Linked DNA regions of Homo sapiens: region 2 is linked to region 1. A link means that fine-mapping ties the variant in region 1 to the plasma level of a protein whose gene starts in the linked region. Region 1 holds a variant in brackets. A gene starts in the other region. All regions are shown on their reverse strands.

Region 1 (5,385 bases):
TCAAATAATGATCAGCTCTTTTGATTCACAGAGGTTTGTGGAGGGAATAGTTTTCTTTCCCCAAAATTATTTTCTTAAACACTTCTCATGGGTTACTATTCTTTATCTATAATGATTCTGCATCAAAATATATATTCAATACTTGTTAAATTTGACATTTCAAATGTTCATGATGTCTTGCAAATATCCTCCTGATTTCCAGATGCAGCCTCAGCAGAACACATCTGGGATGCATGCATAACCATCCGCCAACCAAAGCATCCCCCACAGGGGAATCGTGTAAACATGATATATTTGTAATATGTGGGTACGTAACAATGTGTAAGAAGCTGTAAACATAGTTATATTTCCCACAAGCAGAATTTTTATTCTGTAGTGGGCTATATTTCAGGTCCTTAAGTTTTTCTTCCAACAAATGTACAACTAAATTCTAAGTCAGCTTAATGAGTATATTATGGGTGAGTATGGGGAATTAATATTGAATAAGATGCCAGCAATTATGCCAGTCACATTTTACACACAATTTCATTCAGTCTTCAACATACAAAGTAGATATTATTTTTCTCATTTTTCTTCTAAGGAAAAGTTTCAGGGAGGGTATCTTGCTCAAGACTGTACAATCCAGTGAGCGGCCAGCCAATGTCTGAACCAAAGTCTTTGTCTTCACAGTGCCTGTTAATAATAAGTAGAGCATGCTCTGCATATGCCACCTTGCCACTATGAATTCTATTCAAAAAGGTTATCAACACAATTTTATCCCATTGAGTGAAAACTGCAACTTGAATGACACTATGCTAGATGATGAAGATATAAAAACAATTAAGACACAGCACTGTTGGGCCTGGAAGCACCCACAATCTGGTGGTGGAACTGTGGAAAGAAGGCAGGAAGCCGTGAGGCAGAATACGACAAATGCTATTCAAAGGCACAAGATGTTCATCCTGCCAGGAATGTTTTCCCACGTTCACACCGTAGTGAGCTCCCTGCTCTTTTAAAGCCCAGGGCCACCTACTCTGAAATCCCTCACAGGCACCGTATCCTCTGCTTCTACCGCATCTGCACAATCTCTTTATCCTACTGTATTAGCTATGTTCATGACACGCCTGTCTTCTGCATCAGACTTCATTTTGTTTTTCAAAAATGATGGTTATCTGACTATAACATCAGTCGTTTTTTTTTTTTTTAAGAGACGGGGTCTCCGTCTGTTGCCCAGGCTGGAGTGAACTGTACTTTCTTAAAGACCAGAGTTGATCAGCTGGTTAGATCATATGATCCTACACAAATATCAAGTTCACTGGGAAAAGTAATTCCTCACAGAGAAAGAAAGAGGGTTCCCAGGTCAAGGGCACACTCAAAGCTTAGCTGTCCCACTAGAATCTCTACACAAGACCTCAAGATCCATTTATAGAAGCATGTGAAGTGAGCTCCTCAATGAAGTTGTCCCATTTTTATCTTTAAATACCCTATACAGAACATTTTTACACTGCTGGTGAGAATGTAAACTAGTATAACCACTATGGAAAACAGTGTAGAGATTCCCTAAATAACTAAAAGTACAACTATCATTTGATAGTTGATTATATTTGAAGTCATCATATGAAAAAGATACATCAACATGCATGTTTATAGCAGCACAATTTGCAATTGCAAAAATATGGAACCAGCCAAATGCCCATCAATCAACAAGTGGATAAGCTGTGGTATATGTATATTATGGAATACTACTCAGCCATAAAAAGGAACGAAATAATGGCATTGCAGCAACCTTGATGGAATTGGAGACCATTATTCTAAGTGAAGTAACTCAGGAATGGAAAACCAAACATCGTATGTTCTCACTCGTAAGTGGGAGCTAAGCTATGAGGATGTAAAGGCATAAGAGTGATAAAATGGACTGGGGACTTGGAAGAAAAGGTGGAAGGGGGGTGAGAGATAAAAGACTGCACATTGGGTTCTGCTTTGGTGATGGGTGCACCAAAATCTCAGAAATCACCACTGAAGAACTTATTCATGTAACCAGACACCACCTGTTCCCCAAAAACGTATTGAAATAATAATGAAAAAAAAACCCTATACACCTAGCACCTGCTTGGTACATAGCAGGTGCTCAATACCCATTTTTTAAATGAATAATTAATAAATGAATTAAAAAACAGCATAATCTTCCATTTTAAATATGTACTAAAAAGAGGGATTATATGGGGGACTGGAGGATTTTCTCATTTGTAAAGAACATTATGTTAGCTTGTTTTCCAAGT[T/A]GAAAATAAATTAAAAATGGTAACAAATTAACTCACATTGGAACTTGGACCATGGATCTGAAGTTATGCTCCAGAGGCAAATTTCTTCATTGTTTTTCAGCTTTGTTTCTGGACTTCATAATGTTCCCTGTTTCTGTCATTCTACAGAGGGACACACACAGGATTGCTGAGGATTCCCAGCAAGGAGTCCAGGATCCACTAAGTCCTTCAGGTCCAATGCAAGACTCAATCCTCAGCATCCTCCTGGAGTGTTGCCTGTCCAGTCTCATCTAGCATTACACTACAGTTCTTACTACCTTACACTGTGTTTGCTTATCTTCTGTAGTGTCTGAAAGGCCATAGAGCTTATCTTCTTAGCTATCTACAAAGCTCCTAAAAGCAAAACCTGTCTTCTACTTGTTTTTAATTCACTAGAGTAAATGTGGCTAACATCAGCAAGAACAAGTACAGATACCCAATAAACATTATTGTATGACTAACAATATCTCACATTTTATTGAAAATTCTTATGAACAAATATTAATGTACTTAATGTCATTTGAGCTTTAGATTAACAAGGTACACAAGGTTGATACTTCATTTTGTAGATGAACAAGCAGAAACACAGAAAATAAAAATGATTTGTCCAGAATAAAAAAGAAAAAGAAAAACAGGAAAACTCACTGAATTTGAATTTCAGACCAAAAAGAATTTTTAGCATAAGTTTGGCACTACGCTCTACCACCAAAATGCATGGGACATAATTATACCAAAAATTATTCATTACTTACCAGAAATTCACACTGAATGATGGTCAGTGTTTTCTCTAGCAACCCTAGCCCAAGGTCATATGATTTGTTAGTGTCAAGGCAAGGGGCAATTATTTCGTCATGATTAAAATGTTGACATGCTCATGTTAGTCTACATTTAAACAGAAAACTAACCGGTGGAGGTCAGGAAAAACATAAGTTGAAATGATAACAACCTGGGCAATAAAGGTTATCACAATTTCGAAGCTCTCTAGGAATAAAACAATTAAGCATAAAGTAACTACCAGAAGATATATTATGAGACATTTTAAATTCAGTGAGGGTTCCAGCTTGAGCCCAAGATGGAACGTAGGCAATTCCAGCAAACTTGTGGGGCCAGCCCCAGGAGAACCTGTTTTCCAAAAGACTTGAGAGTCCCAGGCAGAGCGATAACAAGTATTTATTGTTTGCCCACCCTGCAGTGATATAGAGTTAAACAAGACAAGTATGGCCCCTGCCTTCACAGAACAGAAAGCCTAACTGTAAAAAATCCCCCTTAAGGAACCAAGGCAACAGAAGCATCCACTTGGCCAGGTAATCAGACCTCAGAACCAGAGGAGAACGACTATTTTGAGTCTGGCAGTGTTTGTCCTGTGGACTATCCCATGTCTATCTTCATGGACTGCATCCCAGGAACAGAAAGGTTGCAAGGAGAATAAGAGAGAGGCTTCCTTGCAGCCTCTATCATTGAGAGCACTAGCAGCCTGCATTCCCCATGGCTCACAGAGCATAAGATGAACTAGATGGGGACATTTTCACCCTTCCCCACACCTCTTCCTCAGGCTTCAACATAGAAGAGAAGGGAGACATGGCAAAGCTATTAGGGGAGTGATCACTCAGGAATACACACATGAAACCCCAGGAACACTGAAACCTGCCTTGAGGGAACTTTCCAAGGCAGGAGGTGCTGTCAGTAGGTGAGGGCACAAGCTGATCTATCGGTGTTGATATGACCCCCATCAGTGCCACTGATGAGTCTTGGGAGACCTGGCTACACGAGGCAGCTAATTGCACTCGGTTGTCATTCATTGCACTGTGGAATGTCACCATGTCCATTTCAACCTTGACATTACCATGTGGCAGCATACGCGGGCTTCTTAACCTTATCTTCCTGAATTTACACCCAGTGGTTTAAAGTGCTTAAAGCATTTTTCATCATTCTAATACCAGTCATCCTAATTTTTACTCAGCTCTTTAAATACCTTGGCAAGCACATTAAAGGACAAGATGAAATATTAAATTTTCCCAAGATAAGACAACCTCCCAGTTCATAATTCTATATTGCAATAAGCCCTTTACAGAGAAATGTGAGAGAACTTTGAAATTAAATGTAACCAATTCTATCTTACAGCTCATCTAATGAGCTGCTCGGGATTTCACGTTTTCCTTTGCCACTGACACATCTGCCAAGTGATTAAAGGTGCTTTTTGAGTAGCAGAACGAGTGCAATACTTAAGACTTTCCTTAGGAACAAACATAACAAACCCAGGGTAGAGCACATTTTACTTGCTAGTGTTTTACAGGGAGAAAAAAAAAATATTTTATCACACAACAAGAATGTGTTGATTCACCCTAAACTTACAGATTATGCAAAAACATAAAGTCCTTTCCTCATCTATAAAGTGGGGTTAATAGTTTCTTAGTCATGGCAACATTCCAGTTCCAGTCATTCTTTTTTGGATATTTATTTCATTTCATTCTATTTATTTCTATAAATATCTCTAAACATTTTCACTGTCAGATTTTCTCTAACTCAGCTTACCCTTAGGTATAAAATAGTCAAAGTTGCAGTAAAATATGCTTTTTTCATATTAGCACAATTTTTGTAGATTTTTTAGTTAAAAAGTGCCTCAACTAAGTTTCCAAATCTTGCCTCCTACCCCCCAGTTCTCTTTATCTTTCAAAAACCACATGTCTTTTATGAGCTACAGCTCATGAGTTGAACCTCGGATCTGTCATACTTTCAGTGACAACATTCCCCTCTCTCATTCTCCAATAGCCACCACCTCTCTGAACTTCCTCTGCCTTTTGTAAGTCTGCATGCATGATGACCTATCATATGGCTCCCCTTGTTCTAATTACCTTCTCAAATTTTCTCTTGGCAAATACCTCAGCTTTTAGCAGTAAGTTCACATATAAGGAAATAAGAGAGGACACAAACAACTGGAAAGACATTCCATACTCACGGATAGGAAAAATCCATATTGTGAAAATGGCCATACTAACCAAAGTAATTTATAGAGTCAATGCTATCCCCATCAAGCTACCATTGACTTTCTTCACAGAATTAGAAAAAAAAACTACTTTAAATTTCATATGGAACCAAAAAAGAGCCTGTA
Region 2 (5,385 bases), not on the chromosome of region 1:
CCCACCATGACCTTTTTTTTTTTTTTTTTTGGTGACAGATCCTCGCCCTGTCATCCAGGCTGGAGTGCAGTGGTGCAATCTCAACTCACTGCAATCTCCACCTCCCAGTTCAAGTGATTCTCCTGCCTCAGCCTCCCAGGTAGCTGAGATTACACAATACGCCCAGCTAATTTTTTTGTATTTTTAATAGAGACAGGGTTTCTACTAAACGGGGTTTAGACAGGGTTTCACCGTGTTGGCCAGGCTGGTCTCGAACTCCTGACCTCAAGTGATCTGCCCACCTCGGCCCCCCAAAGTGCTGGGATTACAGGCATGAACCACCACGCCTGGTCAACATTTCTTTTTTGTGAAGGAGCTTGGTAAAAAAGTGCAGGCAGCAAAGCACTCCTCCATGATTCTCTCGGAAACCCAGGTCTTTACCCGGGGTGAATCTCTAGGGTACATAGTGCTTGTCTCCCCAGGGTTGTTTGGAAGATGTATGACATTAAATGTTTATGTATAAAGCAGGCTTCTTTAGTAATGGCCACAGAATGGTTTATAAATATAGTACCACATCTTCACTAATTTGCTCCTAGTAATGAAGCTCCTCCCACACAGTGCCTTGTATTGAACGAAGATGTTCCCTGCTCAGTTACACTGGGAGCCCCTAGAGGAGTTAGTCCTGCTTTGTAGTCCTACACCCTCCCTTTCATCTCTTACATGGAGAAGGTTCTCAATGGCTGCTGATTGCCTTATAATTACTTCCCATCTCTTTACCTTTCACAACCAGAATAAGAAATGCAGGGCAAATGTTCCTAAGTGATTTGCATCTCAATTCTGAAAGCTAGCTATTTCTTCAATTAGCTAAGACGTAGCATTATATTTATAATCCATTCTGTGGCTATTAGTAAAGAAGACTGTTTTACATATAAACATTTCATGTCATACTTCTTCCACTCAACCCTGGGGAGACAAGCACCATGTGTCCTAGAGATTCATCCTGGGTAAAAGCCTGGGTTTTTAGAGAATAACAGAGGACTGCTTTGCCACCTGCACTTTTTTACCAAGCTCCTGGCTCTCATGGCTTTAGCTCTAACATGTTGTATGGGTTTGGACACCTTGAAAAGTGCTTAGGAGGTCTTGGGGCCAGACCTGGATTCAAATCCAACCTCTTCCACATGTTACCTTTCTATCTCTAGGCAAGTTACTTAAACTGTGTGCATAGATCAGTTTCCTGATCTATATAAAGAAAATAACAGCATCTCCTCAAAGAGTTATTCTGAAGATGAAATGGGTTACTACAAGTAAAGCACTTAGAGCAGTAAGTGGAACAGTAAGCTCTCCATGAGCGTTAGTTCTTGCTGTGATTCTTTGGAGAAGCAGCCTAGGGAAGGAGAAGACCTTGTCCTGGCTCTACCATTTATTTGCTTTGTGCCTTTGGACATGGAAACACTAAGATTTCCATTTCTTCATGTAAAGTATTAAAATCTTGATAATGCATGGAGTGCCTATCTCACAGAGTGGCAGTGAGGTTCAAATAAGCTAATAGATGTGAAAATGCTTTGTAAACTATAAAAAAAAACTGTACAAATGTAGGGTAACAAATGCCATCTCTTTCTGTCTATACCTGTAAGCTTGCACTCATTTTGTATTATAGTTACTTATTTTTATCTGCCTCCTGCATTAGATTTGAGCTCCTCAAGATAGGAATCACATCTTGCTGTCTCCTATATCAACCTGTACATGAGTCTAGCTTGATGCCTGTACATGGCATATACTCAGTACAGGGAAACTGGAAGAATAGCAAACTCCTTGTGTGTTTTTTCGGGTGTGTGTTCCAGTAGCTTGCTCCCCTTTAGACTGTATGTGCCAGGACTATTCCACCCGACATCAGGTGTAGCTTCCCAGAGGGCTCACTGTGAACAGCATCTGCAGGCAGGCATCCAACACCAAGCTGAGCACTCATGTACAGACACTAAATGTGGGGACACCCTGTCCTGAGGCTCGGATCCCCAGTGCTCAGCCAGCAGCTGTTCCAATCCCCATGAGGTCTCTGAATGAGTCTCCTTACTACTGGAGAGACTACTAGTTTAGTTGCCCTCGATAGTCCAAACTAGGGAAATTGAGAAATTGAACCTTGGCATATTCAGTGAAGTCCAGACTAAGGAAGCTGAGAAACTGAACCTTGGCATGTTCACTGACCTCAAGGCCTTACTTCTTTTTCTTCCATTTCAAAATCTTCCCAAAATGGCAACTTTGGCTTTTGTGCCCCTGCTCCTAGCTCCCATCTTTCATGAAGTGGGTGTTCTTAGAGGATGCCATCTGCCTGATGGTGTCATGTATCTCTATATCCTGCAAGCTACCCACCAAATCCTGCTCACAGATTAAGCACTGGATACATACTTGCTGATTGGAATTTAAAGAAAACCAAAATAAGTAAACTCGACAGGAGATTAATTGCCTAGGAGTCGGTTGACTGCTTGACTGAAGCTGGATTTTTTTTGGGAACCGCTGGCTGCCTTCACATTTCCTGATGGAAGTGGGACAGGTCAACAGACAGCCCAGAGTGGCAGATAACTTTTGCCCACACGTCATTCATTTTTTGGAGCGTTGGCTTGAAATTGAGGGGTGTGTGTGTCTGGAACCGACGTGCCTTCCGTGCGCCTCCGGGGTCTTTGCACTTTCTTTCAATGGGCTGATTACAACACAGAGGATGTGGACAGTGGAGTTTTTCCTGTTTGATGTCACACTGCTACCCTTTAAAAGTCTGACGGCAAAAAGGAGGGAATCCAGTCTAGGATCCTCACACCAGCTACTTGCAAGGGAGAAGGAAAAGGCCAGTAAGGCCTGGGCCAGGAGAGTCCCGACAGGAGTGTCAGGTTTCAATCTCAGCACCAGCCACTCAGAGCAGGGCACGATGTTGGGGGCCCGCCTCAGGCTCTGGGTCTGTGCCTTGTGCAGCGTCTGCAGCATGAGCGTCCTCAGAGCCTATCCCAATGCCTCCCCACTGCTCGGCTCCAGCTGGGGTGGCCTGATCCACCTGTACACAGCCACAGCCAGGAACAGCTACCACCTGCAGATCCACAAGAATGGCCATGTGGATGGCGCACCCCATCAGACCATCTACAGTGAGTAGGGCTTCAGGCTGGGAAGAAGGGGAGCACCCTTGTTGTCCATCTACAGGAGGCTTGGGGAGGTTGGGGACTAGACTGGAGGGCTAATCCAACCCTCCTAGCTTTCTGCCCAGGAACCACTTATTGTCTTTGTGTGTGTGTGTGTTTGTGTGTGTGTGTGTGTGCGTGTGTATTTAAAACTTAGGGGAAGATTCTGTCACTCTCCTAATTAGCATTTGCTGGTTTTTCTCAATATGAATAATTTTTATTTCAACTAAAACCCTTCCCACAGTAGGAGCCATGTTCCCTTTGCCCCGTCAAAAGATTGAAAAAATGTACAGAAAGAAAGGCAAGGAGTCTAAGAGAAAAAGAAGCCAGGCAGATCAACAGACACTAAGTTTCAGCTCATGGACTTTGGACTGGGTTAACTAGGGAGGTTGTAAAGATTCCTGGGTCATACCCAGATTGTTATAGATAAATCTGGGGGCTCTTTCCAACTCTGGCCTTATAAAAATTCTTGGAAAAATGTATTAAAGACAGACTGTCCATGTATGTTGTCTTGGTGAGAATGGCCAAGTATACAACCCATCCACCCATTCATTTGTCCATGCATCCATCCATCCATCCATCCATCCATCCATCCATCCATCCATCCATCCATCCAACAGGTTTAATGGGTGTTTCAGACACCCAGGTACCCAGGTACCCAGTATGAGTTGGTGATTCTTCTCTGTGGAACTGAAAGGTGTCCAGTCAGTAGCAAGTCAAGCTAGTTAGAAACTTATTGGCAACATGAGACAACTGGAATGTTTTTAAAGATCAGGTTTGTGGAGAATTGGATCACAATCCACAATAATCAATCCATTAGCAATGATTCAAATGAGGGTCCCTTTGTGTGCACCTATATAAGGGGTAATGTGGTGAAAGCAGGGATAGATATTGAAAAAGACTGGATCTTCTATTTTAAGAAAACGTGAGAAAACACCTCAAAGCATACAGAAAAATGCAAACTGATCCAATATAGCTCAAATTAAAGGAAAGAAAAATTAGTTAGACAATCTCTAACTAAAGAAAACATAGGAATTATGATTTGCCCTTTATTGTTGTAATAAATAAATTAATTATTTTTGCTGTGACCTTGCTGTGTGTGAGGCATTTATTCTTCTAGGCTCCAAAGGTCCTTAAACCTGGTTGCAAGATATACAACATGCAAAATTAAGTTGCAAGATATATAACATGCGAAATTGACAGTTTAACCTCTTCAAGTACTAAATGCATATTGACAGGAGATAAAAGGAGAGAGGAAAGTTCTCTCCGAATACCAAACAGGTTCCAGAACTCCAGAGAATATAGTAAGACTCAGGAGTCAACATCTTGGAAACCAAGTTTGAGTCTCATGGCAAAAATTTCAATTAAATCTGGATACACTTGATGCACCCGAAGTGTTGTTCATTTTATTCAATGGATATTTAATAGGATCTACCATGTGCCTGGCATTCTACCAAGCGCTGTGGCTGAAAACTAAGACACAACCCTTCAAGGACCTCATGGTCTGTCGTCCTACCTTGTCAGCCAGCTCACTACCAGACTTTCAGGAAATGCAATTTTGCATGTCTCATGGAGGGGACACCCTTACTCTAATTCAAGACTATATGTGGGCCAGGTGTGGTGGCTCACGCCTGTAATCCCAGCACTCTGGGAGGCCGAGGCAGGCAGATCACGAGGTCAGGAGATTGAGACCATCCTGGCTAACACAGTGAAACCCCATCTCTACTAAAAATACAAAAAATTAGCCAGGCGTGGTGGCAGGCGCCTGTAGTCCCAGCTACTTGGGAGGCTGAGGCAGGAGAATGGCGTGAACCCGGGAGGCAGAGCTTGCAGTGAGCCGAGATTGCGCCACTGCACTCCAGCCTGGGTGACAGAGCGAGACTCCATCTCAAAAAAAAAAAAAAAAAAAAAAAAAAGACTATATGTGATTTAAAATGCAGAATAGTAGATTATGGTAAATTATTTTGATTCTCTTAGATGGAAAGGGCTGCATCCAACTAGAGAATGTTTATACAACTTGTCTCGAATCCTGGAATCCCGTTGCTGAAAGGAACTCCTTAAAGACGTTTCTTCCTGAACAAGAATTAGGGTAGAACAGAACAGGCCGGCTACGGTGGGGAGTGAGTGTGAAGAGTCAACCTCCTGGGCTGGCAGTCTGAACTTAGACCTTTTCCTTGAAAGCCCACCTCGTATCAGGCCCCAAGGGATCACTGAGTGCTAGTTAGAGTGAATTAAAATGACTGAG

Direction of the effects. Positions count from the first base shown, and alleles are read on the strand shown. Strength reflects both the effect of a copy and how common the allele is.
For the plasma level of the protein whose gene starts at base 2,767 in region 2, T is the low allele of the variant in region 1 and A is the other (weak association).

The links. PIP is the posterior inclusion probability: the model's chance that the variant is causal. The UK Biobank Pharma Proteomics Project read protein levels with antibody pairs (Olink). The fine-mapping took linkage between variants from a reference panel, not from the people measured, so its PIPs are less certain.
Region 2: it holds the start of FGF23, and the variant in region 1 is fine-mapped to the plasma level of the FGF23 protein (UK Biobank, PIP above 0.99).

What each region holds. Positions count from the first base shown.
Region 1 is chr13:32,931,815-32,937,199 of GRCh38, reverse strand. No RefSeq gene overlaps it. Among named protein-coding and RNA genes, the nearest start is that of LINC00423, 23 kb to the right of the region's middle. The variant T/A (reference allele first, on the strand shown) is at 2,259.
Region 2 is chr12:4,377,094-4,382,478 of GRCh38, reverse strand. It overlaps FGF23 (fibroblast growth factor 23), which reads left to right and starts at 2,767. Exons shown (of 3, transcript NM_020638.3): 1 at 2,767-3,107. The coding sequence starts at 2,897.